Regions from separate parts of the Homo sapiens genome. Here region 2 is linked to region 1. The links come from fine-mapping of genetic effects on gene expression. A gene starts in region 1. The other region holds a variant in brackets. All regions are shown on one strand. Distances are between the middles of the regions.

What was found. PIP is the estimated chance that this variant, and not a neighbour inherited with it, causes the effect.
Region 2: its variant is fine-mapped to the expression of ATP13A3 in whole blood (INTERVAL, PIP 0.98).

What each region holds. Positions count from the first base shown.
Region 1 is chr3:194,479,602-194,495,983 of GRCh38, forward strand. It overlaps ATP13A3 (ATPase 13A3), which reads right to left and starts at 7,401. Exons shown (of 34, transcript NM_001367549.1): 1 at 6,965-7,401; 2 at 6,193-6,234. It overlaps ATP13A3-DT (ATP13A3 divergent transcript), which reads left to right and starts at 7,539. Exons shown (of 2, transcript NR_033929.1): 1 at 7,539-7,571; 2 at 7,855-8,944. RefSeq lists silencers at 6,641-6,700, 6,791-6,840, 6,871-7,530 and enhancers at 8,201-8,420, 10,554-10,673, 12,425-12,534, 12,545-12,594, 12,635-12,684.
Region 2 is chr3:194,516,470-194,532,851 of GRCh38, forward strand. No RefSeq gene overlaps it. Among named protein-coding and RNA genes, the nearest start is that of ATP13A3-DT, 38 kb to the left of the region's middle. RefSeq lists an enhancer at 4,311-4,605. The variant G/T (reference allele first, on the strand shown) is at 8,733.

The DNA of each region.
Region 1 (16,382 bases):
AGAAAAATCTTCGGTCTATAAGGAACCAGTGACTAGGATTCCATGTTTAAAGAAATCTAAAGGTCACAAAATTGAAATATAATTCAAAGTCTTCTTTAAAAAAAAAGTAGAAATATTTGACTAATCAGAATTTTTAAATGAAAATAATGCATATAAAGTCCTATAAAATAAATACAATTACAGATAGTTTTAAATTTTATAAGGTGGTCAGAGACAGAGACATTGGGTAACAGTAACAAGATGGGAGAGAAAACAGACTGCAAACACACCAGAGACACAAAGAGAAAAACTAAAATATACATAAAATGTATATCGGAGATACATGAGGTTAACATCTTGAGCTTTTGAGGATGTTGCTACTAAAGATACAAAATCATAGATTGTTTTGGACATAAAAAGCCTGAATATAACATTATTGCCTGCTGTTCCAGTTAACAAAAAAACAAAGAGCAATCATCAATCACACCCCACACACACATCTGACTTGTTTTGAATATCTTCAATGTTACTAAGTTAACAAATAATAAGTTACCCTTCACTCAGACTCTTATCCTTACAATTCTCTAAGGTACCCTTTATCACCTCTATCTGGCAAATAAAAAAGCTCTCAGAGGTTCAGTGACTTACTTAACCCAGACTACAAGACTGGTATGTGACAGAGCTGTAATTCAAAATCACTATGGCTCTGAAGCCCACATTTTTATCCAATACACCATGCCCTCTCCCAGGACATAAGACTGTTAAGTTTTTAGCCACCATCATGTTTTTACATACTCATGTTTTCTTACTGTGCTATCCCCAGAGTAATACTTAAGTTTAGATACTTTAAATTTCATGGAATCCATTAATAATTTACATCGCTCTTTTAAAACAATGCAGATCTTGCTAGCAGTAAGGAATAAATTTATTCTTTAAAAAAACAAAACAAAAACACTCAAAGTAGTTGAGTATCCCCTCAGAATGACAGACAGTACCAATAATCTCCTAATATTCTCAACTTTATTACCTAGCCTTTTAATTATACTAGATCTTTTTGTGGCATAACCTTACGGAGATAGCAGATGTTCATAAATACCTAAGTTATTTCTCCATTATTCACACTGTGGAGTCACATCATATATGCACTTAATTAAAACCAATTCAACTACTTACACTCTGGGGGGAAGCAACAGAGAAAAATAATTTGAATAATGATGATAGTATGCCTTCCTTTACATCCCTGTCCCAGAGTGAGCATGAAATGAAGACTATAAATCCGCTATGCTCAGTCAATCTAAGACCCATTCACCTGTCAAAACGGTCTCACACAGCTGGTGAGGATTCCAGCTCACCAAAAAAGGGACCTCTCTAAAACTACAGGAAAAACTGGACACTAGAATTGAAAGACAGAATGTCAGTTTCCAACCAGTTTTCAAACTGGTGCCTTTTTAAAAGACTTTTTCCAAGGGTAATTTTGACTACACAGGATTTTTATCTGAGAATTTAGGCCCAAAGGCCCCATGAGCAGTGATTGCACTTTATTCAGCTCTTTAGATCAATCAGAAAAAAATCAGGACCCAAAACACTTGTCTTTTATATCAAAATAAATAACTAAAATATATTTCATCCTATTTCACAAATGGAAAAAAAAAAAAACAGAGCAACAGGGATGCTATGAAGAAACCACCCTTAGACACATATGTGGGAGCAATTCCATGACTCATTTTAAACAAACTAAAAATAGTTTGTTTCAAGAAGTCTGTCAAGCAAGCAAAGGCAACCCTTAAAAGTTGGCTCTCACTGGAAAAAAAAAATGCAAAAGTTTTGAGATGTGCCATTACTACAGAGTACAAAATTAAAGCAAGGGTGAAAGGAACACCCAAGCTAGAGAAAGGATCTGGGGTTAGACCATAAAGGATCCTTTATGCTGTCACTTACTTCACTTTCCTCTTCTCTAAAAAGGCACTAATCTAAATAATCCATGATCTCTCCGCATTATTTTCCAGTCTCACACCTCTTTATTTCAATGTTCAACTCCTTTGTGAAAAAAAAATAAGAAAAACTCACTGAGCTAGAACCATCTTTCACCTTACCACCCAACATCAGTTACAAGTATTTTTACTTCAAACTTGAGAAAGATTCTGTAGACATCAGCAATTTCCAGACCACATAATTAGGAAATTCTACTTTACATACTTAAGTGACTTTTTCTGGAAATTTAATTTCTTATCTAACTAGTCTCTGAGTGTCAATTGATCATTTAAAACCAAGATCCACAGGGAGTAAGTGTAAGAATCAACAAAAAAGACAAAATTCTGATTAACAGATTAATTTTGCGGTCTTGACGTTTACTATTCGAGTTAATGTTTTACCATCTCAGACTCTAGCAAAGGTTCCAATATGACCCTGTGGGTCTAAGATGTTAACAGATATGGTATTGGCATAGTTCCCTCTAGAGAATCATTTTATGGAAACTTTTCAGCAATCACCATCCTCAAACAACCTTCCTCAGTGTCAGACACTTATTTGGACAGTTCTCTCCTTTATTCCGTTTTTCTCCCTTCTTACTGATTACCATAAAGTCATTTTTTAAACTATCATAACAGTGATCATTTTTTCCAATTACCATTTACTCATGTCATCTCATTTTACCTCTATTTTTAACCTGATTAATACAAATTATTTTTGGTTGTTTTAAGACAAAGTCTTGCTTTGTCACTCAGGCTGGTCTCAAACTCCTGGCCTCAAGCCATCCTCCTGCCTTGGCCTCCCAAAGCACTGGGATTTCAAGCATGAGTCACTGTGCATAACCTACTAACACAAATCGTTTTAACTCCTTTTATAATCACTAGTTATCTAGTGATAACTGATTAACTGTGGACCTTCTTCTACCTTACAAATATCTACTTTTCTCCAGATTAATTTGAGCCCAGAACTTTTTCATTTTTTTAAACCTAAATCTTAATTAAAATTATGTGCCAGAAATCTGAGCCTCTCTTACTTCTCTACTCTCAAAATATGATGTTCAACAAAACTCAAACGAGAACCTAACAATTTCCTTGCTTCTTGCATGCTATTTGAACTTAAGTGGTTAATTAGAACATGGTTTTGGCTGGGCAAGGTGGCTCATGTCTGTAATTCCTACACTTTGGGAGGCTGAGGCAGGAGGATCACTTGAGGCCAGGAGTTCTGAGACAAGCCTGGGCAACAAACCGAGATACTCATCTCTACAAAAAAATTTTAAAGGCCGGGCGTGGTGGCTCACGCCTGTAATCCCAGCAGTCTGGAAGGCCGAGGCAGGCGGATCACAAGGTCAGGAGTTCAAGATCAGACTGGTCAACATGGTGAAACCCAGTCTCTACTAAAGATACAAAAAATTAGCCAGGCATGGTGGTGGGCACCTGTAATCCCAGCTACTCGGAAAGCTGAGGCAGGAGAATCGCTTGAACCCAGGAGGCGGAAGTTGCAGTGAGCGGAGATCGCGCCTCTGCACTCCAGCCAGGATGACAGTACAAGACTCCGTCTCAAAAAAAAAAAAAAAATTTTTTTTTAAATTAGCCAGACATGATGGCACACACCCGTTGTCCCAACTACCCTTGTTGCTGAGGCAGGAAGGTCGCCTGAGCCCAGGAACTCAAGGCTGCAGTGAGCCATGATCGTGCCACTACACTCTAGCCTGAGTGAGAGAGCGAGACTCTTTCTCTGGGGGGAAAAAAAAAGAAAAAAGGACGGGGTGCAGTGATAAATGCCTGTAACCCTAACACTTTGGGAGGCCAAGGCAGGCAGACTGCTTCAGTTCAGGAGTTTGAGACCAGCCTGGGCAACACGGTGAAAACCCACCTCTACAAAAAAAAAAAAAACTAGCTGGGTGTGATGGTGCACACCTGTGGTCCCAGCTACTCTGGAAGCTGAGGTGGGAGGACTGCTTGAGCCCAGAAGGTCAAGGCTGCAGTGAGCCATGACAGAGCCACTGCACTCCAGCCTGGGAGACAGAGCAAGACCCTATCTCAAAAAAACTCAACATGGTTTTGACGACTACAGATTTACTCTCTCCATAGGCCAATTAGCTTCATTTTCACAAAAACTATGTTCCAAAACCAAGGCTAAATCCCATCAGCTACCTCTTGGATCCAGATGAGATATGGCATATTCAGAATACATTCAGAGGTAACACCAAGAAGAAATTTAATTTCTAATTTCTTCTGGCTACTCCAGGCACACTGCCTATCGAGCAGCCCTGTTCTGCAAGAAGCAGTATTAAAAAATGTTTTTAAAACTTTAAAAAATAAGAAATGTGATTCTAAGGAGGGAGAGAGAAGGGAGAAAAGGATGAGTACAACATATCTAAGAGTTAAACTGAGCTATATTTGAATGGATGATAAATGGAATAGGAGTTGGCAGCTTATCACCTATCAAAGAAAACAGTCAAAACAGTTCACAGTTGTGTGCTAAAAGAAGGTGATCTAGTGTGTGACACCTATTAAGATGACATATCTGATTTATCACCAGAATCTGAGGTTCAGAGATGTTATGTTGCCTAGTCACATACAACTAACCTTATAAACCCAGAGACAGAAACCTCTGTGTTAAGCACATTAACACAGAGCTAGGTTTCTGTCTGTCTTCAAAGTCGCTTATACTGTAAGCTCCTTAACTTCTTTAATTTTTTTTTTAACAAAGAAGAATATTGTTACCTGAAAGTGTTGAGGATTAGTTGAGACCATATGTAAAGAAAGGAGCACTTTTCCTGGCACATAATGGTTTCTTTCCTTCTTCCATTCCATATATTGAATCAAACTATGCTTGTATAACGTGGTGGTTTTGTAACTACTGTGAATATGAGGTTTTAGAATATGAATATGCTTTATTCCTAAGATAAATAGTAATCTTAGGACATAGGCACTATATCATATTACTATGGATATACAACCTACTCAATGGTCAAACTCAGTGAGAATAAGCAGTGATGGGGACGCCCTATGGAACTTTATCTTTATTCTGTCTTTTTTCTCAGTCTCAGTGATGTTGGAAATAAGAACTTTATACTTGTGAATGACAACAAAGTGGTTTATAATCTCGAAAATCTTGAAGACAGAAATAGGATTTCAAAATGAGCTCGATAATGTGGTTTATCCAAAGCGGATTCTGTGTGTTGTATATTTGGTGACCTAAACTAACTATGTAAGTATCAACCGCCAAGCTCGGTGGCTAGCGCCTGTAATACCAGCACTTTGGGAGGCCTAGGCAGGAAGATCACCTGAAGTCAGTAGTTCACGACCAGCCTGGCCAACGTGGTGAAACCCTGTCTCTACTAAAAATACAAAAAATTAGCTGGGCGTGGTGGCACACACCTGAAATCCCAGCTACTTAGGAGGCTGCGACAGGAGAATCGCTGAAACCCAGGAGGCAGAAGTTACAGTGAGCCGAGTTCACACCACTGCACTCCAGCCTGGGCAACAGAGCAAGATGCCATCTCAAAAAAAAAAAAAAAAATTTAAAGCAACCAAATAGTGTCACTTTTCCTACCCAATCCCCTGACCAAAGCCAGGCATTGTTGTTCTAACAAGGCTCAAAATCTCAATTATTTCACTCTCTGCCTGATCTAATGGTAGGATAATGCAAATCAAAGATACCAGCAAAAGTTATGTTCTACAACAATCATTAATAATAGGTTTACTACTTCGAACAACTTCCAAGCACTGATTTGCCTTAAAGGGGTTGCAAACCAGGATGAGATGCCCACACACATTGATTTTTGGCAACTGTAGTCTATTAAGCAAAGCAACAAACCTCTAGAGAAAATAATGTCACATATATTCCAGTGAAACAAAATTAATACATGTACCTTGGTAAAGAGGCTGAGCTCTAACCAAAGATAGAGCACTGTTCATTACGTACTCACCCTTCAAAGGAATCAAATCGAAACACTTTCATTTTAACAACGATACTTTTTAAAGGCTTTATTTTGCAATAATCTTTCAAGTCCCTGCATTTCTTAGATTCCTTAAATTCTAACTTCCTGCCTCATAGATCTAAAGTAGCCATGACATACCCAGGTATGTTCTACTCATTTAGTTAGAATCGTATAGAGGAACACAAGTCTGTTTCTAGGTGTACGACTCCACACCCATTCATTTTGCACTAATATAACCACTAAATATAGCTCTAAGACACTGATGATTAAAAGCGGCTAATTATGTGAGTGATTCATACCTCCTATGTCCAAACACCAAGATTCAGGGATGTCTGTCAGATCTATGGGAAGAGGAAACAATAAACACCTGTCACAAAGCTTCTTCCACACCGGGAAGCCCCCAGCTGAGTTCCTGCCAATCCCAACCCGATTCCCTCCCCCTTCATCCCTACCCCTCACCTCCCCAAAAAAGCCAGAGGTCATACTTCCACCAGAACCTGACTCTGTGAAGGGAATGGAGAGACAGAAAGGCCATAGCGAGAGTGGCCACGAGAGCACTGCTAGGGCAAAGGGCCCTGGGTTTTTCTAGTCCTCACTGCCACAGAGTCCGAGTGGGAGGCCTCAGGCAAGTCAGAAGTCACTTTTCCTCCACGGGACTCACTCCTTTTATCTGTGAAATGCGGAGATGGCAAGCAGCTCCATACTCCACGGCTGAGGACGAGCTAGGGTCCCGCACAGACTCATCGAGGGCCCTGCCAGCACCCCTACGCCTCTGCCCACAGGACCTCCACCTCCCACAGGACTTTCCGAAAGCTCTGACTACCAACCACCAAGCGCCCGGCCCCCACGCTCGCCCCCGGCAGGCGGCGCGTCCCCCCCAGGCCTTCGCACCCACCGCGTGGGCTCCTGCCCTGGCCTCACCTGCCCCCGACACTCCCCGTCCCCGCGATGCCCAACTCCGGCCCGAGAAGGCTGGCCGCGACCTCGCCCGGTACCCGCCGCCCCGACACCACCATTCGCCTCCTCGACCTCCCCCGGCGCCGCTGCCCACCCGCCCCTCGCCCCGCTCACCGGGGCCGCTCACTGGCCGCCGCCGCGCCGCCTCCTCCGCGGCCTCCCTCGCGGCCGGACCAGCCCCAGGGACCGCGGGGGACCCGGCCGCCGCTGTCGCCGCCGCCGCCTCGCCTCAGCCCAGCCCCATCGCCCTCGGCCGGCGCCGCGCGCTGCGGCTCAGGGTGAGGGAAGGAGGCGCCGCGGCGGGGCCGGGCCGGCCCTGGGACGTCCGCGCTCTCCTCCTCCTCCGCGCCCGCGGCGGCGGCGTGCAGCCGGCAGGGCGAGAACAAGGGAGGGCGGCGGGAGGTGGGCAGGGGAGGGGGGCGGTCTGCACTCCGAAACGGCCCCCCCGCCGCCAGCGACGTAGAGAACCCCCCTCCCCTCCGCGGCGGCGCCCGATCACGCTGCGGGGAGAGCCGGCAGGCAGGCGGGGGAGCGCGCGCGGGCTCAGGACTCCCGCGCCGGATGTGAGGTCACGTGGTGGCTTCATCCCCGCGCGGAGGGCGGAGGGGCGCGGGCGACGTCAGGAGGCGGGGAAGGGGCGGGGAGGGGCGGGGCGATTTATAGGCCCCGCCCACCCATCGCCTTTGCCACCCTCGAACGGGCAAAAGAAAGAAAGAGGCAGGTAAGGGGAGGCGAGGCCGTCCAAAAACGCTGGGTGTCAGCCCGGGGTGGCTAATGGAGGGCGGCTTTTCTGGTGGGATGAAATGGAACGGCAAATCCCACTTCATCCCCTTTGGGCTATGACAACATCATAGTCCAATCTCCCATTTTATGAACAGGGAAACTGAGGCTCAGTGACTAGACAGACGTTGCCCAGAGTCATGGTCATGGAGGAAGCTTGTGCTAGAATGGTGGAGAGGAAACCAGAGCCCAGCTCCTAATGCAAGGCTCTTTCATTCCTTTAGCCACCCTCGCCCCCGCCAAAACAAACAGACAAAAAACTGTCATTCTCATATGACCACGGACTCTGCGCCCCGGCCGCAGGCGGAGGACAGGGAGGAGCGCACACGAGAAAGCTCCCACGCGCCCGCGCCTCGCCTCCGACGGGAAGGCGCCTCTTCCGACCGTCCTGGATGCAAATTAAATACTTCCCTCCGCAGAAGACTTATCTCGGGGTAGGGCCGCAGCCGGATTTCCAAATCGCGGGTTTGATTTTCGCTGCGTCCTCTCCGCGACGCGCGCAGGGAGCGCGCCCGGCCACCTGCAGCCTCTGGCTGCGGCCATCTTTCCGCCTGGGGCCACCTGGCCTGCGCCCTTTGTGCCCGGCCCGCTCCGTGACTGTTCTTCTTGCCGCTACTTACAGAACTCAGCCGCCTTAGCGTCTTAGAGAAGAGGACGGCATGCATGCGGACCCCGTCCACCACACCTGGAGAGCAGGGAGCCCTTAGTCCCTGGACACTTACCAGGGCCGCCACCCCTGGTCCACGCACGTGATGACATCTCACCAGGGGCAGCACACCGCCCGAGTCCGCGACACTGATAACACCTCCTGCGGGCAGGAGGGCGCCACAGCCACCCCTGGTCCCCTAGATTGTGTGAGGCTAGCATTTCTGCCCGCCTCTTGGCGTGGACAGCACGCTGGACCGAGATGGAACCACAGCTTTCTCTTCCCAATCCCTGGCCTCACCGTTTTGTTTCATACCTCACCGTTTGTTTCAAACCTCGTGGTGTTGAAATGATTAAATGAGATTAAGGGGTGTGTGGTAGTGTTGGGCAAACCACAAGAAAACGGTCTGGGTGGGGTCTGGCCCTAAAATCTTCCTCCCCCACCTCCCAGGCTTCCTTGCCTTGCTGCTTCCTCTCAGCCTTTAAACAGGTTGGCCTCTCCAAGTCCTAAAAACAAAATTATCAAGCCAACCTCCTCCTGAAGTGCTCCCTCCAACTAGCTTCCAAGTGTTTCATGCGGACCTCAAACAATGGTCTTCCCTGGCTGCCTCTGCTTCCTCATTTCTCAACACTTGGCATTCTGGCTTCTCCTCCCCAACTCTAACCCTTCACCTTGCTCAGGCAAGAGCAACTCATGACTTTCATTTTGCCAAACCTTGCAGGCATTCCTCAGGCCTTATCTCTCTGGTTCTTTCTGCTACATTTGACACCTTGGGATGACTCTCACCTTCTGGAATCTCTCTACTACCTTGGTTTCAGAAGAGTGAACCCTCTGGATTATCACATGAAGGTAAGTAAAGCCTCTGCCTCCTTGGTAACATCTACTTGTGAATCTGCACCTTAAATTCAGGATTCCACTCTAAGCCAACAACTTTGCTCACTTCACTCATTCTTCTGGGATTGCCTGCATCCTCATGGATGCAGCTCCCAAATTAGCAATTTCCAACCCAGACCCCTTCCACAAAATTTAGAACCAAATATCCAATTGCCTGCCAGGCAGCTCTAGCTAGATATCACAGACACCCCAAACTGGACATTTCCAAAACTGAACTCATTCTCTGCTTTCATAGCTGCCCCTCCCTCAGCTGTTGGCACCACCATCTCCACAGTCATCAGAATTAGAAAGTTGGGAATGAGTGAGTCATTCTTAATTCAGCCCTCTGCCTTACCCAATCACCAAGTCCTATCTATTTCACCTCCTTAATAAGCCTCAAATTCCTATGGTGGGCTGGGCGCAGTGGCTCATGCCTGTAATCCCAGCACTTTGGGAGGCCGAGGCTGGTGGATCACACGAGGTCAGGAGTTCAAGACCAGCCTGACAACATGGTGAAACCTCATCTCTACTAAAAATACAAAATTAGCTGGACGTGGTGGCACATGCCTGTAATCCCAGCTACTTGGGAGGCTGAGGCAGGAGAATCGCTTGAACCTGGGAGATGGAGGTTGCAGTGGGCTGAGATTGCGCCATTGCACTCCACTCTGGCCAAGAAGAGCAAAACTCCATCTAAAAAAAAAAATTCCTACGGTGGTTCCCACTGGCATCCATCCTTTCCAGCCTGAATTGTTAGACAAATTCAGCCTTCAGAGTGAACTACAATGCACTCCATTTAAAATCCTAAGAGTTTCCCTAGGCTTCTGGCTGCAGTGTATACCTCCAAGCTACCCAGCATGAACCTGTCAACGCGTTCGGGCTTTTAAAAGATCACAAAGAGCCCCAGAATTCGAGGTGCAGCCAAAGTAAGGCAACATACAGCCAGTCAAGGGAAAGCTATAGGAAAAAGAGAAAAGCAGTTGGATATTCCAAAAACTTTTCTGTTACAGATGTTTTGAGAATGGTGAAAAAAGGAATTTGGACACTGGCTTTAGAGGAAGTGCTGAGTCACCAGGAAAGGCTTGAGCATGTTTATGGGTTGAGGGAAAAGAAGGTGCAAGAAAAAAGGAGAAACCCAAGATAGGCGAGAGAAAGGGAGTGGAACAGTCTGGAGAAGTCCTGGAAGACTTACTGGTTCTCAAGTCATGATGATTCTGGGTCCAAGCCCACTGCTTCCCCCCTCTGATCCTACTCACTGTAAGCACCAACCCTGATTGCAGCTGCATGGAGGTAACAGTCATACCAGTAAGGTCTGACGTCACTTCTCAGAAAGGCTATTTTGCATCTTCTTCATCCTCAAAACCCCCATCTTTGCATGCCCTTCCCTCTCACTGTCCCCTTACTTCCTATTTCACTAAGAAAACATACACCATCAAGAGGAAAAATCCTCATCTTCCCACCCGCAAATCTGCGCATCATCCTACATCGGCCCCAGGATCTATTTTCCCACTCCAGAGAGGCAAAGCCTCCTCCTAACAGAGCTAGCTCTCCACAAAATGACCACTGTTAGGCCAACTCCAGGGGCTAGGCCTCCCCAAAATATTACTGTTGCCAAATCCGGAGGACACTTTGCAGGCCTTATCTTTCTAGTTCTCTCAGCAGCATGCATCTCCTATCCTTGAGACACTTTGCTGTTAGTTTTGATAACATACTCTATTTTGGAATTCCTCCTCCCTGTTTCTCTTTGTCTACTCCATCTCAGCCTCCGCAGGTGCTTCCTCTGTCCTTCTCTAAATGTTGCTGTTCCCCAAGGCTCAACCCAGGATCCATTCCTGTGTCTACACAAGGTTTGTTGTGTTTTTGTTTGTTTGTTTGTTTTTAATTTGACATCTCTTGACCTTACAAGAGTTGTGGATGGGCTTCAGAAGGATCTATAAGCTCCTTAAACTTGGATGCAAATACTTTTAAAGGAAGAAGTGGAGCTTTTAGCAGCTTCTCAAAGGTGTCTGGGTCCCCCAAAAAAGATAAGAGGACTGATCCACATGCTCTCCCCTGGTGGCCTCATCTACTATGGCTATAGCTGTCATCTGCATGTACATTAATAACTGTAAACTGAGGCTGGGCATGGTGGCTCACGCCTTTAATCCCAGCAATTTGGGAGGCCGAGGCGGGCGGATCACCTGAGGTTGGGAGTTTGAGATCAGCCTGGCCAACATGGTGAAACCCCATCCACTAAACATACATAAATTAGCCAGACGTGGTGGCGTGCGCCTGTAATCCCAGCTACTTGGGAGGCTGAGGCAGGAGAATCACTTGAACCCAGGAGGCAGAGGCTGCAGTGAGCTGAGATGGCACCATTGTACTCCAGCCTGGATGACAGAGCAAGACTCTATCTCAAAAAGAATGTCAACCATATGCCTGCAGCCCAGGCCACTCCTCAGAGTCCCTTGGCCATTCCTCCCTATCATTTTCACATGGGGTTTCACTGGTGCCAGATAAGTTCACTTATCCCAAACTTAACTCTTGCCTTTCTTCCCCAAATCAGCTCCTCTCTCCTGGGCCTCCTGACCTTAGCAAAGACGCTGTCACCCAAACAACTGCTGAAGCCCAAAACCTGGGAGTCATTCTTTACACCTCCCTCTCCTTCACCACCCCATCCAATCCAACACCAAGTCCATTTCAAATCCTTCCCCATTGCTCCATTTCACTGCCACTAGAATAATGCATGCCCCCTCATCTCTCACCTCGCACGCCCCCTCCATCTCTCACCTGGCATGTCCCCTCCACTCTCACCTGGCATGCCCCCTCATCTCTCACCTGGCATGCCTCCTCATCTCTCACCTGGCATGTCCCCTCCATCTCTCACCTGGCATGCCCCCTCCATCTCTGACCTGGCATGTCCCCTCCATCTCTCACCTGGCATGCCCCCTCATCTCTCACCTGGCATGCCTCCTCATCTCTCACCTGGCATGTCCCCTCCATCTCTCACCTGGCATGCCCCCTCCATCTCTGACCTGGCATGTCCCCTCCATCTCTCACCTGGCATGCCCCCTCATCTCTCACCTGGCATGCCCCCTCATCTCTCACCTGGCATGTCCCCTCATCTCTCACCTGGCATGCCTCCTCCATCTCTCACCTGGCATGCCCCCTCATCTCTCACCTGGCACTAGTGCATTCGCTCCCAGTGGGTTCCTCTGCTTTTGCCCTTGCCCACCTCCAGTGCATTATCACACAGCAGCCAGAGTATTAGTTTATGTGACTTCAAGCAGAGCTGCTGATAAAAGCTTTCACTTGCTTCCCACCTCACTTGGAATACTAGATGAACTTCTTGGGTCCACAAAGTCCAGTGCAGGATGTAACCTGCCCACCACTTCCCCCTCCACTGGCACTCCTCTGCTCTCCCCGTCTTCTCACCGCAGACCCCTTCCCCAAGTTACTCCAGCTACACTAGGCCTTCTTTCAATTCCTCAAACGCACCAACCTCTTTCCTGACTCACGGTCTTTGTACAATCTATTCTTTCCCTTCCCTTTTTTTCTTGCCTGACTAACTTATAAGTTCAACTTTGGGCTTAAATGCATATACAGTTGTCCCTCGATATCTACAGGGAATTGGTTTCAGAACCTCTGTGGATACCAAAATCCAAAAATACTCAAGTTTCTTGGATAAAAGGGTATAGTATTTGCATATAACCTATATACATCCTCCTGTGTACTTTTTTTTTTTTTTTTGAGACAGAGTCTCGTTGGGTCACCCAGGAGTACAATGGCATGATCTTGGCTTAGTGCAACCTCCGCCTCCTGGGTTCAAGCAATTCTCCTGCCTCAGCCTCCCAAGTAGCTGGGATTACAGGCATCCGCCACCAGGCCCAGCTAATTTTTTGTATTTTTAGTAGAGACAGGGTTTCACCATGTTGGCCAGGCTGGTCTTGAACTCCTGACCTCAGGTGATCCACCTGCTTCAGCCTCCAAAAGTGCTGGGATTACAGGCATGAGCCACCACAACCCGTGATCTATACTTTAAATCATCTCTAGATTACTTATAATACGATGTAAATTCTATGCAAACATATTTTTATGTATAGTATTTTTATTGTGTTGTTATTGTATTTATCTCAAGGCTGTGGTTGTATGACACTTATGTAAGATTGAAAAAATAATGGTTGTTTATTTTTGTAAATGTGAGAAGGACTTTTGGGATTATGGGAAACAGGCACATAAAATATCCTTCTCACCCGGGCACAGTGGCAGGTGCCTGTAGTCCCAGCTACTTGGGAGGCTGAGGTGGGAGGATTTCTAGGATTGCCTAAGCGCAGGAGTTTGAGTTTATGGTGAGCTATGATTGTGCCACTGCACTCCAGCCTGGGCAACATAGTGAGATCTCAGCTCTTAAAAAAAAAAAAAAAAATCCCCCATCCCCACCCAAACCATCTCTTTGTGCTGCTACTGGTAAAGAATAAGTCAGTTTGGCTTATCACTGTAGACCCAGCACTAGATGAAGCCTGGCATGTGATAGACACTCAAATGTTTGCACCTGATGGATGACTGAATGAATGAATTTACGATCTCAGATATCATCTCTAAATGCCTTCCCTGACTCCCAGGCTAAGAATCCCTCTTTAGCTGAGCGCACGGCTCACCCCTGTAATCCCAACACTTTGGGAGGCCGAGGCAGGTGGATCACTTGAGGTCAGGAGTTCGAGACCAGCCTGGCCAACATAATGAAACCCCGTCTCTACCAAAAATACAAAAATTAGCCAGGTGTGATGTCAGGCACCTATAATCCCAGCTACTCAGGAGGCTGAGGTGGGAGAATCGCATGAACCCGGAGGTGGAGGTTTGCAGTGAGCTGAGATCACGCCACTGCACTCCAGCCTGGCAAGACTCCATCTCAAAAAACAAAACAAAAAGAATCCCTCTTTAGTGCATATTTGTCTCACTGCATTTACAACCTTGAATAAGCACCTATTTAGTGTTTTTGTTTTCCATGAGTCTACCTTATTCATGTTTTTTTCCTAAGGTTCTGAATACTTTCATATGTTATCTCATTTAATCATCACAACGATGCCAACACTAAAAGTAGTAGTGACTATTCTGTTCATTTTCATAGACGAAGAAACTTTACATATATGATCTCATTAACCTTTATAACAATTCTAGGAAGGAGGTACTATTATTTCTGTTTACAGATTGAGGAAAGCTTATTTCTGCTTACAAATTGAGGAAGATTATTTCTGCTTACAAATTGAGGAAAGCTTAAAAATCCCATTTTACAGAATGGAAAAAGAGGTGTTCAATAACTCACCCGAAAGCACAGCCAGGATTCAAACCCAGACACTTTGCTCCAGGGCCAAACTCTTGACCACTATAACCAAATGAAGCCAGAGTGATTCACCAGAATGAGTTCATCTCGCATCAAAACTCTGGATTATCTGTTTAAGCACCCAGACTTCCACCTCCTCATGAGCCAGGACCTTCCTCAGCCACATCTGGATCCTCAGCCCCTCACAGCACACAGCGGTAGTCAGAAAGTATGCTGAGTAAGTGGAGAACAAGTTAACATTGATTTTCACAACCACGATGTCAGACTAGCAATGGAATTGTTTTGATTCTCCTTTTATAGAGAAGAAAAATGAGATTCACAACTTCACAAGAGGGAGTGTCTTATCTAAGAATCTCTGACTGAGTTCAGCCCTTGTTTGTATTCCCTCTGCTGCCTCCACAAAAGGTTAGAGGTCACATGTTTAGATTATGAAGACCTTTTGCCATTAAAAAATGGCAAAACAAGCAAACAAAACAAACACAGCACTCATTGCCTTTCCTAGAAAAACTGTCCATTAAAAGTACTTTGAGGCTGTGCGCAGTGGCTCATGCCTGTAATTCCAGCACTTTGGGAGGCTGAGGCAGGTGGATCACCTGAGGTTGGGAGTTTGAGACCAGCCTGGCCAACATGGCGAAACCCTGTCTCTACTAAACATACAAAAATTAGCCAGGCATGATGGCAGGCGCCTGTAATCCCAGCTACTTGGGAGACCGAGGCAGGAGAACTGCTTGAACCTGGGAGGTGGAGGCTGCAGTGAGCCGAAATCATGCCACTGCACTCCAGCCTGGGCGACAGAGGGAGACTCCATCTCAAAAAAAGAAAAGAAAGTACTTTGATTATGATTATGATGTTTGCCCAACAAGCTCTATCTCTCTTTCTTTTAGTGCCTCCTAAGCCATTCAGTTCCTATTTAGCTTGACCTATGCAGGCCAGTGTGTGTGTGTGTGTGTACTGGAATGGGAACAGAGAGCAGGACTGTTAAGTCAGATGTCTACAAATCACAGTCCATGGCCATCACTGACTTGTTTCTGTCTCTAAACAAAGCATGTAAAAACTGTTTGCCTCTGCCATGAGGCAAAAGCATGCGCTTGGCATTTTTCTGAGGTCATGATGCCCTAGGATGTGGCAGTTCACGTGCCACTGAATATTGTTTACCAACTAGCTATTCAGGACACGGGGTCCCTCCTGGAGGAGTGCTTACTGCTGGCGTCGGGCCAGTGTGCTGATAACCTAGTTCTCTAAGAGATTGAAAACTCTGACTGTGTGGCCCCTGCCAATTTCATGGTGTAAATGCTCCCACCACAGCCAATTTCAAGCTACCAAGAGTTTCCCTACTGCTTCACGAAATTCCTGAAAATTTTTATGGTTACTTATTTATTTTATTGTTTTTGAAATGGAGTTTTGCTCTTGTCGCCTAGGCTGGAGTAAAATGGCACCATCTTGGCTCACTGCAACCTCCGCCTCCCAGGTTCAAGTGATTCTCCTGCCTCAGCCTCCTGAGTAACTGGGATTACAGGTGCCCACCACCACACCCAGCTAATTTTTGTATTTTTAGTAGAGATTGGGGCTTTACCATGTTGGCCAGGCTAGTCTCGAACTCCTGACCTCACAAGATCCACCCACCGTGGCTCCCAAAGTGCTGGGATTACAGGCGTGAGCCACCACGCCTGGCTCAAATTCCTGAAAATTTAATAGCCAGCATTAGTGAGCCAATACACACCAGCCCCAGCACACTGCTGTGTATAATAATTCCATGTATGGGTGGGGAGAGAAGAAATACAAGTAGTCCTTTAAGATTTTGGCTTGGCCAGGTACAATGGCTCATGCCTGTAATCCCAGCACTTTGGGAGGCTGAGTCGGGCAGATTACCTGAGGTCAGGGGTTCGAGACCAGCCTGGCCAATGTGGTGAAACCCC
Region 2 (16,382 bases), 37 kb after region 1:
GTTATTTTTTTTTTTTTTGTCTTTTTTTTTTCCTTTCTGTGGAGAACGGCGTCTTGCTGTATTGCCCAGGCAGGTCTCGAACTTCTGGGCTCAAGCTATCCTCCCACCTCCTCCTCCCTAATAGTTGGGATTACAGGCATGAGCCACCATGGCCGGTGGACGTAACCCCAACTTAAGTCGAGGAGCATCTGTATTTGACTTGATACTTTACGAAGGGCTCCATACCACAGCTCTGCATCTGTAAATCCTCACAAAAGGCTTGGAAGGGGTTCCCATTTTTAGGCTGCCCTAGTTTTACCAGCTGGTGGTAAACCCTGGTGTCAGCACCAGCATTCCTGGGGATCCAGAGGTGATGCTGACAGGACCCCCGTCTTCAGGGCATGTATTGCTGGGTCTGTCCCGCAGACCCTGGCTGACAGATGAAATGAGTACTCAGACAGAGGTATGCAGTGTAAGAGCAGCTAGGCGACTGCCTGGCTCTAGTGTCCAGAGAGCAGCCCGAGAGCTGGAGCTGCTTGCTTTTATTCAGTGCAGGCACAATGACGAAAACCTGGAGCCAACACAACCTGCAGGTAATTAACATTTATCATTCCCTTTTCAGGCAACATCATGCACGCGGATGATCAACAGTCAGTTCCTGGTCAACATAAGTAAACAAGCCTGTTTAAGATAAATTCCCCCACACTCCCTTGTACCTACTCCTTGCCCTCTGCCCCAGGGTTATAGAACAGCTGCTTTCTGCTATTCTCCCCCCAGGCTCTGCAGAACCTTCTGACCTTTCAGAAGGTTTGCATCCTTTCCCTATAGTTTTTCCACCGCTCTGACCAGTCCCCCACAATATATAGCCTTGTATGCAAAGCCAGGCCTGTCCATGCAGGGTGACCATCCAAGGTAGACAGTGGCAAAATCTGGTGGAGGCATCAGAGATAGTGCCATCAGTTTGCTGGAACAAGCATATCAAGGAGCCTGGCAGATCTACACTTCACCAGACGGTGCCTGTAGCCAACAGGGCAGGCCCTTGCTCCAGGGAAACACTCAGAAATCAAAACTCCTTGCTCTGCTGCCAGGGAACTCTCCAGGAGATCCTCAGTGTCATCAGAAGCTGAAAAAAACAGTGCTGAGAAACGTGGCCTGCCGTCTTTCCAGCTAAGGGAGATGGCCCATTCGACCCTGGGTTGTCCTCTGCAAACGCGCTGCTGCAGGTTGCATGGCACCATCTCCTGATTGCAATTTGCTTTCCTGAGGGAGTGAACTGACTGAAATTGGATGGTAATAAGTTGCTAGGTTATTTTCCACTTTTTAGTTTATGAGGCTTATTCATTTTGCTTTAACATTAACCACTGCCTTCCTTTTAAGGAGCTGGTGAGGCAGCGCATGGCAACAGGTTCAGGGTGAGGAGTGGCACCACCTCCTTTCAGTGAGGATTTGGGAAGGGTGAAAAGCACCCTAATCTTCTCAGCCGCATGTGAACAAACCACCTGTCAAGGTGGGTCCTTCCTATAGGGAGGTTGATGTCAGCCCTTCAGGGAGGTCTCAGTTTTCTTCCTCCACTTCCTAATCCCTTCATTATAATTCCTTCCACAACAGAATAAGTTTCTTGAGCAATGCAGCAATATCCAGCAATTTTAGATAGACATTTACCTTTTGACCTAGAAATCTCACTTCTACGAATCCATCCTAAAGACACACTTTCAGCTGGATGTGGTCGCTCATGCCTGCGATCCTAACACTCTGGGAGGCTAAAGTGGAAGAATCTCTTGGGCTCAGGAGCTCAAGACCAGCCTGGGCAACATAGGAAGACCCTATCTCTAAAAAAAATAAAAATAAAAACGGCACACAGTCAAAAATTCAAAAATTAATATACATAAGGCTATTTATTACAGAAACATTGGTAGTAGCAAAAGACTGGAAATAACTCAATGCCCATCAATAGGGAACGGAGTAAATAAACTAAGATACCTACACATAATGGAGTGCCATGCAGCTTTGAAAGGAAATGAGGCATATTTCTATGTTATATGTTGTGATCACCAGAATATAACCTAATGAGTAAAAAGCCAGGTGAAGAAAATTCTGATAATATGCTATCATTGGAGAGGGGAATATGAATATACCATACATCACATAGGAGGAGAGAGGAAATAAAGTGAGAGGATTGGGATAGAAGCTAGACTTTTCTAAATATATCTTGTTTTATAGATTTATGTTGGAAGTTTGTGGATATAGTACTTTAGAAAAGTATAAAACCAAATTAGACTTGACAAAATGAAACAAGTCAATCTGTTGAGTTGATGGTGTAACTACACAGTGAGAAACTATTGCAAATGACCTTAACACTCAGGAATTCCACTGTATATTCCTAATGGGAGATCCCCTAATGACCAAACTTAAACCCAGTCCAACCAAACCAAAAAACCTTGTAAAATATCTGAAACCATTTTTAGTAATGAAATGAGAAATGTGGTCGTGTTGGTGATATGGTTTGGCTGTGTCCCCACCCCGACATCATCTTGAATTGTAACTCCCACAATTCCCACATGTCATGAGAGGAACCCAGTGGGAGGTGATTGAATTATGGGTGTGGGTCTTTCCTGCGCTGTTCCCATGATAGTGAATGACAAGATCTGATGATTTTAAAAACGGTTTCCCCGCACAACCTCCCTCTCTTGCCTGCCACCATCTATGTAAGATGTGACTTGTTCCTCCTTGCCTTCCGCTGTGATCGTGAGGCCTCCCCAGCCATGTGGAACTGTAAGTCCATTAAACCTCTTTTTCTTCCCAGTCTCGGGTATGTCTTCATCAGCAGCATGAAAATAAACTCATACAGTAAATTGGTACCAATAAAGTGGGGTGCTGCTGAAAAGATACCCAAAAATGTGGAAGCGACTTTGGAACTGGGTTATCAGGCAGAGGCTGGAACAGTTTGGAGGGCTCAGAAGAAGACAGGAAAATGTGGGAAAGTTTGGAACTTCCTAGAGACTTGTTGAATGGCTTTGACAAAAATGCTGATAGTGATATGAACAATAAGGTCCAGGCTGAGGTGGTCTCAGATGGAGATGAGGAACTTGTTGGGAACTGGAACAAAGGTGACCCTTGTTATGTTTTAGCAAAGAGACTGGTGGCATTTTGCTCCTGCCTTAGAGATTTGCAGAACTTTGAACTTGAGAGAGATGATTTAGAGTATCTGGTGGAAGAAATGTCTAAGCAACAAAGTATTCAAGAGGTGACTTGGGCGTTCTTAAACACATTCAGTTTTATAAGGGAAGCAGAGCATAAAAGTTCAGAAACTTGCAGCCTGACAATGTAATAGAAAAGAAAATTCTATTTTCTGAGGAGAAATTCAAGCTGGCTGCAGAAATTTGCATAAGAAATGGGGACCCAAATATTAATCTCCAAGACAATGGGGAAAATGTCTCCAGGGCATTTCAGAGGTCTTCATGGCAGCCCCTCCCATCACGGGACCAGAGGCCTAGGAGGAAAAAAATGGTTTCTTGGGCCAGGCCCAGGGTCTCCGTGCTGTGTGCAGCCTAGGGACTTGGTGCCCTGCATCCCAGCTACTCCAGCCATGATTAAAAGGGCCCAAGGTACAGCTCGGGCCGTGGCTGCAGAGGGTGCAAGCCTCAAGCCTTGGAAGCTTCTATGTGGAATTCAACCTGTGGGTGCACAGAAGTCAAGAACTGAGGCTTGGGAACCTCTGCCTAGATTTCAGAGGATGTATGGAAACGCCTGGATATCCAGGAAGTTTGCTGCAGGGACAGGGCCCTCATGGAGAACCTCTGCTGGGACAGTGTGGAAAGGAAATGTGGAGTTGGAGTCCCCACACAGAGTCCCAACTGGGGCACCACCTAGTGGAGCTGTGAGAAGAGGGCCACTGTCCTCCAGACCCCAGAATGGTAGATCCACCGACAGCTTGCACATGTGCCTGGAAAATCGGCAGACACTCAACACCAGCCCATGAAAGCAGCCAGAAGGGAGGGTGTACCCTGCAAAGCCACAGGGGCTGAGCTGCCCAAGACCATGGGAACCCACTTCTTGCATCAGCGTGACCCGGATGCGAGACATGGAGTCAAAGGAGATCATTTTGGAGATTTAAGACTTAACTGCCCTGCTGGATTTCTGATTTGTATGGGGACCAGAGCGCCTTTGTTTTGGCCAATTTCTCCCATTTGGAATGGCTGTATTTACCCGATACCTGTACCCCCATTGTATCTGGGAAGTAACTAACTTGCTTTTGATCTTACAAGCTCCTAGGCGAAAGGAATGTGCCTTGTCTCAGATGAGACTTTGGACTGTGGACTTTTGAGTTAATGCTGAAATGAGTTAAGACTTTGGGAGACTGTTGGGAAGGCATGACTGGTTTTGAAACGTGAGAACATGAGATTTGGGAGGGGCCAGAGGCGGGATGATATGGTTTGGCTGTGTCCCCACCGAAATCTCATTTTGAATTGTAACTCCCACAACTCCTGTGTGTCATTGGAGGAACCCAGTGGGAGGTGATCGAATTATGGGGGCAGGTCTTTCCTGTGCGGTTCTCATGATGGTAAATGAGTCTCACAAGAGCTGATCGTTTTAAAAGTGGGAGTTTCCCTGTACAAGCTGTCTCTCTTGCCTGCTGCCATTCATGTAAGATGTGACTTACTCCTCCTTGCCTTCCACAATGATTGTGAGGCCGTCCCAGCCATGTGGGACTGTAAGTTCATTAAACCTTTTTTTCTTTCCAGTCTTGCATATGTCTTTATCAGCAGCATGAAAATGGACTAATACAGTTGGTAAGACTGTTTTGCATGTATTATAGGATAAAGCAATGAGTAATTATGTTGTTTTGAAAAGTGGGATGTTTTACATCCCAGGTATGGATATAAGATCAATAAAGTTAAGTAGAAACACTTTAGTCTTACCTAAATTTGAAATAGAACTATTAGTAAGAATCCATAAAGTATTTGCTTGTAAAAAATTCTTTCTAGAAACCATCATCAATTCAAAAGCAAGCATTTCTTGCACACAGAATATGATCTCTAAATGCCATTTACTAAAAGAAAGCAGGGCTCCTTAGAAAAATGGCTGATTCCAGATCTGGGCTCCTGGGAAAGAAATGTACAAGATGAGCCTGGAACATCATATTATACACCTGATAATCAAGCATTTATCAAGAACAATAGGGTGATTTCACAAGGCAAATACCAGATATTATGTGCCTCCTGATGAAAAACATTAGTCATGAAGTAGTCTTGCCAAAATCCCTAACCTAAATCTGATCAACTACTCTAAATCCAACTTCTAGTTTACAGGAAATGTCAAGGACAGAGAACATGTTAAATCATACTGCTGGTTGCAATCACCAAAATTATTGCAGTGGCTCATGCCTATAATCCCAGCACTTTGGGAGGCTAAGGAGGGCAGATTGCTTGAGCCCAGGAGTCTGAAACCAGTCTGAAATATAGTGAGACCCCCATTTCTACAAAAAATTGAAAAATTAACCAGGCATGGTAACATGCACCTATGGTCTCAGCTACTCTGCAGCCTGAGGCAGGAGGATCGCTTGATACCAGGAGTTTGAGGGTCCCTTGAGCCATGATTGCACCACTGCATTCCAGCCTGTGTGACAGAACGATACCCTGTTTAAAAAAAAGAAAATATCACAAAGACTTAGTTGCCTATAGTCCTAGCTACTCAGGAGGATGAGGCAGGAGCATGAGGCTGGAGGATGGCTTGAGCCCAGGAGTTCCAGTCCAGACTGGGCAACATAGTAACCCCCTCCCTTAAAAAAAAAACAAAAACAAAAACAAAAAAACAGACTCAGTCAACTTGAAGAGGCCCCCACTAACCAAAGAATAAGATAATCTGAGCATCAATAAGAATTATAACTGTGATGAATTGAAGCTCATCAAATGTTTAAAACCATGAATTCATGCTTTTTAAAAATTAAATCTATTGGTCACTTTTGGTGGGTGCTAGGGATCCATTTGTTATTTTGAAAATTGGCAAATAAAGAGAGAGAAGCATTTATATTACCTTTCCAGTGACAAATATAGCTTATGTTAACTGCATAGACGATCAGGGAAACCTTTTTTGGATGTATTACAGCTATTAAACAGAGAAAGACTAGAAGGATTACAATATCACCATTTTGCCATCTTTAGTAAATTAACAGGCCTGGACTTTGATCATCAATGACGGTCAAAAGACAAATACATGAGTGCCTCCCGATGAGAAACAGTCATGAAGTAGTCTTGCCAAAAATCACTAACCTGTCTGGTCACTACTCTAAATCCAACTACTAGTTTACAGGAAATGCCAAGGACAGGGAACGTGTTAAATGATACTGCTGAATGCAGTCGCCAAAACTCAGATGGTGAGAAATTCCATGAGATAAATGACCCAGCTTCTTCAACAAATACATTACAAGCAGGAGGAACTTATCAAGTAAAAGGGATCCAAGAGGCATACTGAAGTCTATGGGTGAAAATGATGCCATGATATGATTTGCTTCAGAATAATCCAGGAAGGGATTAGTCATAAAATAAGATTAGCCATGAATTCTTTTTTTTTTTTTTTTTTTTTTTTGAGATGGAATCTCGCTCTGTCACCCAGGCTGGGGTGCAGTGGTGCGATCTCGGCTCACTGCAACCTCTGCCTCCCGGGCTCAAGCAATTCTCCTGCCTCACCCTCCCAAGTAGCTGGGACTACAGGCGTGTGCTACCACACCTGGCTAATTTTTTGTTTTTAGTAGAGACGGGGTTTCACCATGTTGGCCAAGCTGGTCTCGAACTCCTGACCTCAGGTGATCTGCCCACCTTGGCCTCCCAAAGTGCAGGGATTACAGGTGTGAGCCACTGCGCCTGGCCGAATTCTTAATTATTGAACCTAGGTGATAGAATCGTGGAAGTTTATGATACCATTCTGTCTCCTTTTATGTTAGAAATTTTCCATAGTGAAATAAATAAATAAATAAATAAACAAAAAGGAAACTAAAGACTGAAGCCACAGAAAAGCTAAACAAACAAAATAAAGACTTTCTCTCTCTTTTTTTTTGGACACAGGGTCTTGCTGTGGTGCCCAGACTACCTGGGCTGCAGTGCAACGGTGCCATCTCAGCTTACTGCAGCCTCAACCTCCCAGGCTCAAGAGATCTTCCCAACTCCTGAATAGCTGGGACTACAGGTTCGCGCTACCATGCCCAGCTAAGTTTTCCATTTTTTTGTAGAGACAGGGTCTCGCCATGTTGCCCGGTCTAGTCTCAAACTCCTGGACTCAAGTGATTCCCCTGCCTAGGCCACCCAAAGTGCTGGGATGGATTACAGGTGTGAGCCGCCATGCCTGGCCAGAAGGTGAATTTTGAAGTCAGGTCGACTCGGCTTCAGTTCTGGCTTAGCCACTCCATAACTGTGTGACAAGAGACAAGTTCTAGCTCTGAAACCCAATTTTCTCAGGAAAATGGTGACAGTACACACCACCGTTCCGTTGTATGAATTAAAGGTAACAGTTGGGCAATGCTTGGCAGAGCTCCTCGCACATAGTAACCACCTTTACTTATTGCTGGAGGGAAGGTTGTACACCCTTGGGCCTTTTCTCTTTTTGAAATAGCTGGTATGGAACTCAGGTGACAAGACTAGTGGAGGCAGGAAGAGGGACCCAGGAATTCTATCTTCCTATGGCTAAAAGGGGAAAAAGAAGCTTCCCCGCCTGGAATACTTCCTGAATCTTGCCCCTCCTCCCCATTTTTCAGGGCTCTTTTCTAGTTCTGCCTCCAGGCAAAATTAGTACCTCCTCTTTTTGCCTCAGCTTTTCCACAAGTCTATTTGAACACATCCTTTGACCCCTTTTATTGGTGTGATTTGAACCAGGCACAGTGGCTCAGGCCTGTAATCCCAGCACTTTGGGAGGCCAAGGCGGGAGGATCACTCGAGTCCAGGAGTTGGCGACCAGTCTGGGCGACATAGCAAGACCCTGCCTCTGTTTTAAAAACTTTTTTTTTTTTTGAGACAGAGTCTTGCTCTGTCACCCAGGCTGGAGTGACGTGGCGCAAACTCGGCTCACTGCAAGCTCCACCTCCTGGGTTCAAGCGATTCTCCTATCTCAGCCTCCCGAGTATCTGGAATTACAGGTGCATGCGACCATGCCCGGCTGATTTTTGTATTTTTAGTAGAGACGGGGTTTCACCACGTTGGCCAGGCTGGTCTCAAACTCCTGACCTCAGGTGATCTGCCAGCCTTGGCCTCCCAAAGCGCTGGGATTACAGGCATGAGCCACCGCACCCAGCCTTGAAAAAACAATTTTTTTAAGTAATTAAATATTAGTGTGATTTTTTTTCTGTTCTTCCTCCACTGTTCCCCAAGCTATAAACTTCCCTACAGGGCAAGAGTCTTCAAGATCTTTCTTTCTACCCAGGTGCCCAGAACAGTGTCTGGCACATTGTAGGCGCTCAAAAAAATGCTTACTGCCTCGGAAACCTGACCAGAAAAGGCCAACTGTATGTGGGGTGGGGAAGGGAATGAGAAGGGTTAACCTTTCTCCTCCACCTTCAGCTCTGTGTCAGATGATATACAAGTGGAGACTGAATCCCGTAGATTTATAGTGTGTTTTATGATGATATAAACAGAGCTTTTTTGTTATTATTAATCATCCCATTTATGCATTTCAAAAATCCACAAAAATTCATCATTAAAATTTGTTTCATACCTTCTCATCCTTTCTCTCAATAACGTAGCAGTGTTAGAATTTTGTCTCAATTC[G/T]TCATGGCCTTCAGGTAGCACTTGTCTGCTGGACACAGAGGGACAGGAATTCTCAACCTGAAGACTGCAAGTTTCAGCCACCTATGAAGTTTCAGCATCCTGATGTTGCAAAATGGTACATATACATGTGTACCTATATACATTTTTTTTTGAGACAGAGTCTTGCTCTGCTACCCAGGCTGGAGTGCAGTGGCATGATCTCAGCTCACTGCAACCTCCACCTCCCAGGTTCAAGCGATTCTCCTATGTCAGCCTCCTGAGTAGATGGGATTACAGGTGTGTGCCACCACACCCGGCTAATTTTTTATATTTTTGGCAGAGATGGGGTTTCACCACGTTGGCAGGCTGGTCTCAAACTCCTGACCTCAAGTGATCTGCCTGCCTTGGCCTCCCAAAGTGTTGGGATTACAGGCATGAGCCACCACCCCTGGCCCATATATGCATTTTTGGATAGGGTGATGGTCTGTGATTTTTCAGTCAGATGCTCTCATGGGTTCCTGACCTAACAAAGGAGAATGACTACATTCAATAGAAGAGGTGCAAAATAATGAGAAACACTAAGTGTTCACTGAGAACTCTTTCTTTTCTTTTTCTTTTTCTTTTTTTTTTTTTTTTTTTGAGACGGAATCTCACTCTGTCACCCAGGCTGGAGTGCAGTGGCGCGATCTCAGCTCACCACAACCTCCGCCTCCCAGGTTCAAACAATTCTCCTGCCTCAGCCTCCCGAGTAGCTGGGATTACAGGCATGCACCACCACGCCTGGCTAACTTTTGTTTTTTTAGTAGAGATGGAGTTTCTCCATGTTGGTCAGGCCAGTCTGAAACTCCTGACCTCAGGTGATCCACCTGCCTCGGCCTCCCAAAGTGCTGGGATTATAGGCGTGAACCACTGTGCCTGGCCTAGTGTACCCATTCTTTAAGGCCCCACTCCTGTCCCTTCTCCCTACCACTGTCCCTGCCTCTTACCCAACCAGTTGTCTTTCTCTCTTGTAAACTCCAACATTTCACATTTATCTCTTGTTATATGTGGCTAGTAACCATTGATCACCTTCCTTATGTTTGCTCATGTTTTACCTTCCCAGCTAGTCTGTATGCTTCTCGAAGGCTAGGCTCATATTGCACATCATTGTATCTTCTTTGCCCTCTGGAAGGCTAGGATCATATTGCGCATCATTGTATCTTCTTTGCCCTCTGGAAGGCTAGGATCATATTGCGCATCATTGTATCTTCTTTGCCCCCGGAGCATGGCCTGCCTAGAGGGGATATTTGGTCATTTCTTTTTCATTGATTGGTTTTATAACCACCATAATGTTTGAACTCCTTAATGTGGCCTACATGGATTGGTCTTTGCCACCCTATTTGGCCTCATTTGTGTCTCCTCCCCCTTTACATTTTATACCTAGCCATCCTCAATACCAGCCAGTTCCTTAGAAATTCCATGGGCCAAGCACAGTGGCTCATCACACCTGTAATCCCAGCACTTTGGGAGGCCGAAGCGGGCGGATCACCTGAGGTCAGTAGTTCCAGACCAGCCTGACCAACACGGTGAAACCCCATCTCTACTAAAATACAAAAATTAGCCAGTTGTGGTGGTGCACGCCTGTAATCCCAGCTTCTCGGGAGGCTGAGGCAGGAGAATCGCTTGAACCCAGGAGGTGGGGGTTGCAGTGAGCCCAGATCGCCCTACTGCACTCTAGCTTGGGTGACAGGGCAGTGACCCTGTCTCAAAAAAAAAAAAAAAGAAAGAAAGAAAGGAAAGAAAGAAGGAAGGAAGGAAGGAAGGAAGAAAGAAAGAAAAAAAGAAAGAAAGAGAAAGAAAGAAAGAGAAAGAAAGAAAAGAAGAAAGAAAGAAAGAAAGAAAGAAAGAAAGAAAGAAAGAAAGAAAGAAAGAAAGAAAGAAAGAAAGAAAGAAAAATTGCAGCCATGACACCTCACACAGCTTCCTCTGCCGGAACACTCATCTCCTCTTCTGTCTGGTTGACTCTTCTCAACATTTGCATCTCAATCTGGGAATTACTTCCTAACGAGAAGTCTTCCCCTGGACTTCATCAGAAAGTACAAATTAGTAAGATTGCGCCAGCAAAATGCGTAGTGTGTGAGAAAGCACTTAGCAAGAGGAAATGAGAAACATTCACGTCCACTTACTCATGAGCTTGCTCCAGCTTCTTCTTCTCCTGTCCCCTAGTTCCCTCTGGATGTCAGCCATCTGAAATTACTCACAGGACATCTGAATGCACTTTGTTTTATCATACAAAGTGTGCCTTTGTACACACTTTTCTTCCGTTTTTTTTCTTCCTTTTTTTTTTTTTTTTGGAGGCCAAGTGCACTGACGCCATTTCGGCTCATTGCAACCCCTGCCTCCTGGGTTCAAGCTATTCTCCTGCCTCAGCCTCCCAAGTAGCTGGGACTACAGGTGTGTACCACCATGCCTGACTAATTTTTGTATTTTTAGTAGAGATGGGGTTTCACCATGTTGGCCAGGCTGGTCTCGAACCCTGACCTCAAGTGATCCACCCACCTCGGCCTCTCAAAGTTCTGGGATTACAGGTGTGAGCCATTATGCCCAGCCTGTACACACTAAACATTTTTCATTTTTTCATTCTTCCTAGGATTCCATTTAATCCATGCCCTTCCTTCCTTCCTCCTTCCCTTCCCTCCCTTCCCCTCCCCTCCCCTCCCCTTCTCTTCCTTTCTTCCTTCTTTCTTTTCTCTTTCTTTCTCTTTCTTTCTTTCTTTTTCTTTCTTTCTTCTGTTCTTTCCTTCTTTTGTTCTTTTCTTCCTTCCTTCTTTCCTTCCTTGCTTCCATTCTTTCCCTCTCCCCCCGCCTTCCTTCCCTCTCTCTCCACACCCCTACCCCCGCCCTTCTCTTTCTTTTGAGAGTCTTACTCTATTGCCCAGGATGGAGTGCAATGGTGCCATCACAGCTCACTGCAACCTCTGCCTCCCGGGTTCAAGTGATCTTCGTGCCTCAGCCACCTGAGTAGCTGTGGGATTACAAGTATCTGCAATCAGGTCTGGCTAATTTTTGTATTTTTAGTAGATATGGGGTTTCACCGTGTTGGCCAGGCTGGTCTTCAACTCCTGGCCTCAAGTGATCCACCCACCTCGGTCTCCCAAAGTGCTGGGATTAAAGGCATGAGCCACCGCGTGGCCTAATCCATGCCCTTTCTTCACCTAATTAACTCCTACTCATTTTTCAATGCCCAGCCAAGGGGTTTGTATAATGGTGCAATTTTTGTTTGTTTGTTTGTTTTATGAGACGGTCTTGCTCTGTCACCCAGGCTGGAGTGCAGTGGTACGATTTTGGCTCACTGCAACCTCTGCCTCCCCGGGCTCAAGCAATTCTCCTGCCTCCCTCCCGAGCAGCTGGAATTACAAGTGCACACCACCACACGCTGCTAATTTTTTTGTATTTTTAGTAGAGATAGGATTCCACCATGTTGGCCAGGCTGATCTCGAACTCCTGACCTCAAGTGATCTGCCTGCCTTGGCCTCCCAAAGTACTGGGATTACAGGCATGAGCCACTGCGCTCGGCCAAATGGGGAAAATTGTAATAATTTCTACCTCCGAGGGTTGTTGTGGGAATGAAATGAATTAATGTCTATACAGTTCTTTGACTTCTTCCTGGCATATAGTAAGTGCTAAATAATTTTTAGCTATTATCAGCAACAACATCATCTTCTCTTTCATCATTATTATCAGTATATGTAATATACAAGTCTCTTGTCATTTTTCATGCTATATAGTAATTGCTTTTCATGTCTGTCTCTCCACCATCATATGTGCTCCTTTTTGATCGAATGATCCTCAAATAACGAGGTCATTCTACAGGCCCTAACAAAGCATCAACAGTCAAGGTTTGGAGCTACAGAAATCCTACAGAGAGCTGTGAAAAGAAAAACGTCAACTGGATGAAAAGGCTGTGGGAAAAGGAACAAGTAAATAAGGTTAGAAAGAATGCCTTAGAAATAGCCACAGGACTCATTCACTATTGATCACAGTGCAAGTTGACACAACCTTATTTTGTCAGGCATTTTGGTGCTTCACACGAAAATGTTATTTATTTATTTATTTATTTATTTATTTATTGGAGACAGAGTCTTGCTTTGTCACCCAGGCTGGAGTGCAGTGGCGCAATCTTGGTCACTGCAGCCTCTGCCTCCCAGGTTCAAGCGATTCTCCTGTCTCAGCCTCCTGCATAGCTGGGATTACAGGCACATGCCACCATGCCCAGCTAATTTTTGTATTTTTTTAGTAGCGATGGGGTTTCACCATCTTGGCCAGGCTGGTCTCCAACATCTGACCTCAGGTGATCTGCCCGCCTCAGCCTCCCAGAGTGCTGGGAATACAGGCGTGAGCCACCACACCCGGCCAAAAATTTTAATTACATATATCCTTAAACCGAGAAATATCACTTTTAGAAGTCTATTCAATAAAAACAATTTCTCTGGTATACAAAGATACATGAAAAGGTTAACCATCACATTACTTGTAAGAATAAAAAATTTTGAGAGGCTGAGGTGGGTGGATCACCTGAGGTCAGGAGTTTGAAACCAACCTGGCCAACATGGTGAAACCGCGTCTCTACTAAAAATACAAAAATTAGGTGGGCATGGTGGCGCACACCTGTAATCTCAGCCACTCGGGAGGCTAAGACAGAAGAATCACTTGAACCTGTGAGGCAGAGGTTGCGGTGAGCCAAGATCATGTCACTGCACTCTAGGTTGGGTGACAGAGCGAGACTCCGTCTCAAAAAAAATAAATAAATTTAAAAAAGAATAAAAAATTGGAAACAGCAGAAATGCTCATCAAGGAAAGATTAATTAAATTAATTGTGGGATTGTGCTGCATCCATACAATGAAAGACTATGGAACTATTAAAAAGGAGGTAAAGCTCTCTGTCTGGAAGCCAGAAGTCCACAACATATAGTTAAATGAAAAAGCAAGTCGCAAAATAGTCTAAATTTATTAGCCCAATTTTGGGGTCAACTTTATTGAGGTACAATTTAAATGCAATAAAATTCACCAATGTTAAGTGCACAATAAATGAGTTTTAACAAATATACCATCATATAGTCACTACCACAATCATGAAATTGATAGGATATTTTCATTACCCCCAAAAAATTACCTTGAAACATTTTTCAGTCATTCTACACCCCTACCCTCTGCCTCCTGGCAACCACTAATCTGCTTTTTATAACTAAGATTTTGGACTTTTTTTTAGCACTTCACATAAATGGAATTATATAGTAGATAGTCTTGAGTCTGACTCCTTTCACATAGCATGAAGCTTTTGAGATTCATTCGTGTTTTACATATCAGTGGTTCATTCTTTATTATTGCTGAGTAGCATTTCACTGTAAGGTTTTACTACATTTTATATATTCATTTACCAGTTCTTGGGCATTTGGATTGATTCCAGTTTTTAATGAGTATGAATAAAACCACTATAAACATTTGTGTACAGATTTATTTAATTTAACTTTTTATTTTGAAATAATTATAGATTCACATTATAAGAAATAATACAGAGATTGTTTCCTTACTTATGGAAGAAAAGAAAAAAAGAGAGATCCCTTGATCCAGCTTCCCCCAGTGGTAACATCTTGTAAAGTATAGTAACATATCACAACCAGGCTGTTGACATTGATGAAGTCAAGACACAGAGCAGTTCCATCATCACTGGGACCCCTTGTGTTGCCCTTTTATAGCCACACTCACCTCTTTCCCCGCCCCCAGCTCCTGGCAACTATTAGTCTCTTCTCCATAATTTTGTCATTTCAAGAGTGTAATATAGATAAATGTAAGCATACAATATACAATATACAATTTGTAAAGATTGGCTATTTTCACTCAGCCTAATTCCCTAGGGATTCATTACATATGAGATTCATTACATATACACACACACACACACACACACACACACACCAATAGCTTGCTCCTGTTTATTGCTGAGTAGTGTTCCGTCCTGTGCATATACCATGACTTGGTTTTTGGCTATTATGAATAAAGTCGCTATGAACAATTGGTGTGAATGTAAGTTTTCTTTTCTCTGAGATAAATGCCCAGGAGAGCAACTGTGGGTTGTATGGTAGTTTCATGCAGTTTTATTTATTTATTTATTTATTTATTTATTTATTTATTGAGACGGATTCTCCCTCTGTCACCCAAGCTGGAGTGCAGTGGCGAGATCTCGGCTCACTGCAACCTCCGCCTCCTGGGTTCAGGCAATTCTCCTACCTCAGCCTCCCGAGTAGATGGGACTACAGGCGCGCGCCACCACGCCTGGCTAATTTTTTTGTACTTTTAGTAGAGACAGGGTTTCATTGTGTTAGCCGGGATGGTCTCGATCTCCTGACCTCGTGATCCACCCGCTTCAGCCTCCCAAAGTGCTGGGATTACAGGTGTGAGCCATCACGCCCAGCCCGCACGGTTTTATTTTTAAAAACTGCTAAACCTTTTCCCAGAGTGGTTGTATCATTTCACATTCCTACCAGCAATTTTTGTGGCCCAGTTTCTCTACATCTTTGCCAGCATTTGGTGTTGTCATTATTTTTCATTTTAGCCATTCTGCTAGGCAAAAATAAAAAATATCTTTTTAACTTTTTTTTTTTTTTTTGGTATTTCTAGTACAGACGGGGTTTCACCATGTTGGCCAGGCTGGTCTCGAACTCCTGACCTCAGGTGATCTGCCTACCTCAGCCTCCGAAAGTGCTGGGATTACAGGCATGAGCCACCGTGCCCAGCCTAAAATAAAAAATATTATTATGCTACATGCAAAATGCAAAATAATATTTCACTGTGGCTTTATTTTGTATTTCCCTAATGGCTAATGATGTTGAACTCTTTTCATGTGCTTATTTGCCATCTGTATAGCTTCTTCAGGAAATGTCTGTTCATGTCTTTTACCCGTTTTCTAATTGGATTTTTTTACAAGTTTGTAAGTGTGCAAATTTGGGGGTTTCCTGAAACCACCCTCAGGTTTGGTACTTTGCTAGAATGACTATCCAAGTGATCCTCCTGCCTCAGCCTCCCAAAGTGCTAGGATTACAAGCATGAGGTACCACACCCGCCAAATAATTCTTTTTATATTCTTGATACAAATACTTTGACAGATACATATTTTGCCGATATTTTACCCCAGACTTGCCTTTTCATTTTCTTAACAGTATTATTTGAAGAGCAAATTTTTAAAATTTTTATGAAGACCTAGTCATCATATTTTCCTTTTTGTGGTCTATTTAATATATTAATATATGCCCAACCCAGGGTCACAAAGACGTTCTTCTGTATTTTATTCTAGAAAAGTTCTAGTTCTAGTTCTTACATTCCGGTCTACTTTTCATTTCAAGTTAGTTTTTGCAGATACTATGAGGTAAGGGTTGAGGCTCATTTCTTTACATATGGATATCAATAATTACAGTATGACATGTGCAAAAGAGTCCATTTTCTCAGTGAATTGCCTTGGTATCTGTAAGGAGTTACCCAAACCACACAGTCAGACGGAACAATCCCTATAAGATTGCCCTGACTTCAGACACCAACTGCGAGTTTGCGGCTTCCTAAAACCACTCTCAGATTTGGTACTTTGCTAGAATGACTCACAGAACTCAGGAAAGTGCTGTGTGTACCACTGCAGCTTTA